Linked DNA regions of Homo sapiens: region 2 is linked to region 1. Evidence: fine-mapped expression QTL. Tissue or cell type: whole blood. Region 1 holds a variant in brackets; the other region holds the start of a gene. All regions are shown on one strand. Distances are from middle to middle.

What was found. PIP is the estimated chance that this variant, and not a neighbour inherited with it, causes the effect.
Region 2: SMAD3 starts here. The variant in region 1 is fine-mapped to the expression of SMAD3 in whole blood (TOPMed, PIP 0.96).

The regions. Positions count from the first base shown.
Region 1 is chr15:67,011,088-67,013,587 of GRCh38, forward strand. The region is part of intron 2 of SMAD3-DT (SMAD3 divergent transcript); the gene reads right to left. Among named protein-coding and RNA genes, the nearest start is that of SMAD3-DT, 52 kb to the right of the region's middle. The variant A/G (reference allele first, on the strand shown) is at 1,508.
Region 2 is chr15:67,064,252-67,066,751 of GRCh38, forward strand. SMAD3 (SMAD family member 3) reads left to right here and starts at 1,351. Exons shown (of 9, transcript NM_005902.4): 1 at 1,351-2,109. The coding sequence starts at 1,904. RefSeq lists enhancers at 1-369, 1,909-2,500 and silencers at 1,128-1,617, 1,788-1,947, 2,098-2,147, 2,398-2,457, 2,478-2,500.

The DNA of each region.
Region 1 (2,500 bases):
GGTGGTGGGGAACAAGAGCTCCTGGGGGCCAAAAGCCTGTCACAGAATCGGCACCCAGTAAATATTTGTGGAATGAAGGGGTGAGTGGATACATGAAATGTTTCTGAACAGTAGAATTTGAGCTGCCATGGGAGGCAGAGGGGAAGGATAGCAATGCTATTTTTGCTATATTTTAAAATCCCCACTTCTCTTTAATGGAGAGACAAAGTAACCAGAACTCTTCAAATCACACTAGGTAAATTCAAGGCTGATATTTAACAGGTCGAGTGGCACAGATACTGACCAATCAGAATAGACCTGGAGAGCCGTGCTGGACTCAGCACAACCCCTTTGCTTGTGGATAATGGAAGCCCGGGGGTTCTGAAGGCTGGGGCTACAGAGGAGGGGACACTAAGGGCTTGAGGCAGCTGCTAGTCATCAACTGGTATGAAAACATTTCAGTACTCAAACAGCAAGCACAGCAGTGTCACACACATGATAATTAAACGTCAGCTCGGGTTAGGTAGCTGCATGAGAATCAAGAAACTTCTGCCATTTCCCCTCCCTAGGCCCCAATTTCTCGTCTACAAAACAATAAAACTTACTAGTCTTCAGGTTCACTCTAGTTCTGACTACCTGTGATTTTAATATAATAATAAGGAGAACAATTTATAAAAGCCAGCCTGGTATGGCAGAAAAGGCACATGCTCTGAAGCCGGTAGACCCAGTTCAAAGTCCAGCTGTTACTTACTGTGAGGCTCGGGTCCAAATCAATTAACTTCTCGGAACCTCCACTTTTTATTAATTCAACTAACATTTATGGAGCCCTTTTTATGTACCAGGTCCTAAGGACACTTTAGTGAACAAGACCCAGTCCCTTGCCATCATGGAACTCGCTGTTCTACCGAGGACTCTTTGGATGCAAGTGACAGAAACTGGCTCAAGCTAGCTTAGGCAAAACCAGAATGCATCATAAGAATGTAGCAAGCCTGGAGGGGCCCAGGAGGGAAAGCAACCAGACTTTGCTTAGAACCTGGACAGGAAGGCCACCAGCCTCTCTACCACCCTCAGCTACCTGCTGCATTACTCTCTTCTCCCCCTCAACCCCTCAGTTCTGATAAGCCTCAGTTAATATGACATCTCAATTCTAAACTCTCCACAAAGAATCCCAGCACTTGGCTGGGCGCAGTGGCTCATGTCTGTAAGCCCAGCACTTTGGGAGGCTGAGGTGGGTGGATCACCCGAAGTCAGGAGTTTGAGACGAGCCTGACCGACATGGCAAAACCCCATCTCTACTAAAAATACAAAAAGTAGCTGAGTGTGGTGGCTACTCCGCACCCGAGATCCTCCACACACACACTCTGCCTCCCGGGAATCTCTTGAACCCAGGAGGCAGAGGTTGCAGTGAGCCCAGATCGCACCACTGCACTCCAGCCTGGGTGACAGACTGAGACTTCATCTCAAAAAAAAAAAAAAAAAAAAAAAAGAATCCCAGCACTTTGGGAAACCAAGGCGGGTGGATCACTTG[A/G]GGTCAGGAGTTCAAGACTGGTCTGGCCAACATGGCAAAACCCTGTCTCTACTAAAAATATAAAAATTAGCAGGGCGTGGTGAGGCACTCCTGTAGGCCCAGCTACTAGGGAGGCTGAGGCCGAAGAATTGCTTGAACCCGGGAGGCAGGGGTTGCAGTGAGCCGAGATCACGCCACTGCACTCCAGCCTGGGTGACAGAGTGAGATTCCATCTCCATAAATAAATAAATTCTCCACAAAGAGAACCTGATTGGCCCAGCTTGAGCCACATGCCCACTCCTAATCTAATCACCTATGACCATAAGGCGGGACCACTAGGTACAAACGTGGCCTCAGGGACTCACCCATGTGATGGGGGAGGGGTCCAAATTCCCAAAAAAGGGAGCTTGTAGATCCTGGTGTCCACTTCACCACCTCATAGGGTGGATGTAAAGATGAAATGAAATTCCATGTAAAGTGACTGGCACATAGCCTGGCAGACATAGCTGGAGCACTGTGCCTCTGTGCCTTGCTAATAATTGGTGCTTGACTAAAACATGTGCTGAACAGGGGAACAATATTATTAACAATGATACCTTTCATGTATCCACCAACTTTATGTCCATTCCATTCGTTACTTCCTCTGTTGCCTGGATCTCGAGCCCCACCTTGCTGAATGGACTTAAAACAAGTTAGTTGGGCACATGTGGCTCCCAGGCTGGATGGCATCCACATGGTGGGTGCCTGATGTGCTGAATGGATGAATGAGTGAATGTTCTTCCACCCAGCCCTCAGTGCTCTGCTGAGGCAGGATGGGTGGCTGGAAAAATGGGGTCTTTGGAATTTGTCTCCTTTTCACCTAGATCTTTGTTAGATCTTTTTCCTCCTTTGTTTAGTAACCAAAGAACCGAGAACTCAGGAAGAGATCAAGGACTGGGTTCAAGTCCTCCCACTCCCCCCACCCCCCATCTAATTTGATGACTATCATTGAGATACTGACCACCCCTCTCTGGA
Region 2 (2,500 bases), 53 kb after region 1:
AGGAGCACAGCGCACTTCTGCAGCAGCAGCTGCGGATTGGCTTGTGGGAGGCGGTTCTCCGGAGCAAGGCAAGGGCCCCTGCCGCTTCTGGGCTGACTGTGGATTCCGCCACACCTCACAGGGCTTTGTAACTCCCCACCCACTTGAGGGTTCCAGATAACTTTTTTTTTTTAACAAAGCAGGGGTGGGGGTGGGAGATTCCTGCTGTTAAAAACAAACAAAGGGCTTAGACACCGGCTAGTCGGCTGCGGGAGGCAGCAAGAGAAAGGCCGAGGGGCCTGGAGTAGCTCCTGAAAACCGCCGAGGGCCCTGCGGGCAGACGCCCCTGAATTCTTTTGGTGGGGAGAAAAGCCGCGGAGCTCCCCAATGTGCCAATTGGTTTGTTGTTGTTTTGCTTTTTTTGAATACACAAACTCTCCGAAAACTCCTGTCTTGCCCCACTTTTTTGTGAGTTCATTGCTTTGGAAACAAAACTCTCTTCCATTTATTGGCAATTATCAAATTTCCGATCCTTCTCTATCAGGAGATCCAGCAACAAACACCCTGTTATGTAAATTTCTTTCAAAGATAAATTCGAAAGCCCCTCCATTCATTCCTTCAAGAACTCAACAGATGTCCTTGAGGCTCATTTTCTGCCGGGCACTCGGTTCACAAGGCTCAAGAGACCCCTGGCTCCAGCCATTGTCCAGGTTGTCACTGGTGTCCCCAGCTCTCCACTTCTGAGGACCCACTTCTCACCCCCTCCTCCTCCGCACACGTTCCCGAGGCTCTCGGCCGGTGTGATCTCACCGACTAGAGAATAAAAACAGCCCAGGGGCGCCGGCGCCGGCCAAGGGCCTTGACGGGGATCAGCAAGCGCGAGGCCAAGTGCGGGCCCCAACTTCCTGGGCCCGGGCCTTCCGCGCGCCCCCTCTCGGGCTCGGGTCCTCTCCAGGGTGCACTCGCGTCCGGACGACGCTTACTTGCTGCGAGTCCAACCCTCTCCGGCCCGCAACTCCAACCGAGCCGCCCGAGTGTGGACTCCGAGAGCGGACGCCACGGGCCGCGCTCAGCCCTCCCGCCCGAGGCCCCTCTCGCCGTGTTTCCCAGGACTTCCTCCCCGCGCCCGCCCGACTTCAGGTCGGGGCCGCGCAGGGTCCCGCGCGCTCCAGCCAGGACTGCCGCCGCCCGGGTCGCCCACGTGGGCGTGCTGGGCGCGGGGTGGTGGCCGGCCGGGCGCCCTCCCCGGAGCAGGGGGCGGGCAGGGCGCCCGCGGGAGGAGGTGGCGGGGCGCGGGGGAGGAGGCGGGGAGCCCCGGCGGCGAGGGGGCGGTGACAGCACTTGGAAAGGAGGCTGCACGCGGATTTGCATGAAACACAGACTGGGAGCGGGCGGGAGCGGGAGCGCGGCGCACGCCCCGGGCCGGCCCAGCCAGCGAGCGAGCGAGCGGCGAGCCGGGAGGAGGAGGGTGGCGGGGCGGTGAGGCCGCAGAGGCGGAGGGATCTGCGCATCAAAGCTAGCGAGGCGAGCGAAGTTTGGCCGGGGGTTGGACTTTCCTTCCCGGAGGCGGCACCCAAACAGCTACCCCGTGCGGAAACCCAAACTTCTGCTGCCACTTGGAGTCTCGCGGCCGCCGCCTCCGCCCCGCGTTCGGGGCCTTCCCGACCCTGCACTGCTGCCGTCCGCCCGCCCGGCCGCTCTTCTCTTCGCCGTGGGAGCCGCTCCGGGCGCAGGGCCGCGCGCCGAGCCCCGCAGGCTGCAGCGCCGCGGCCCGGCCCGGCGCCCCGGCAACTTCGCCGAGAGTTGAGGCGAAGTTTGGGCGACCGCGGCAGGCCCCGGCCGAGCTCCCCTCTGCGCCCCCGGCGTCCCGTCGAGCCCAGCCCCGCCGGGGGCGCTCCTCGCCGCCCGCGCGCCCTCCCCAGCCATGTCGTCCATCCTGCCTTTCACTCCCCCGATCGTGAAGCGCCTGCTGGGCTGGAAGAAGGGCGAGCAGAACGGGCAGGAGGAGAAATGGTGCGAGAAGGCGGTCAAGAGCCTGGTCAAGAAACTCAAGAAGACGGGGCAGCTGGACGAGCTGGAGAAGGCCATCACCACGCAGAACGTCAACACCAAGTGCATCACCATCCCCAGGTGGGGGCCCGCCCGGGGGGGACCCGGGGTCACGCCGGCCCAGCCCCCTGGCACTGCGGGGCCGACCCAGTGGGGCTGGAGATGGGAAGAGGGAGAGAGAGGGAGGGAGTGAGACTGTGTGGGTGCGTGTGTGTGAGAGTGGGAGAGCGCGGGCAGGAAGGGGGTGGGGGGACCCCAAACAAAACCATCTCTGATTTGCAAAGATCAGAGCCCGAGGCTTCCACGCGGCACTCTGGCTTCCACACCTCACATTCCCTTTCCACCTCCGGGAGGGGAGAGCGGGTTGCTGCGGGACTCGGCCGCCCCCACTCCGGGGAGCTGGGGCTGGAAGTTGAGGCCCGCTTTGTTCGGCTCCGCGGGCCGGAGCCCCTCCTCCGCCGCCGCCTCCCGC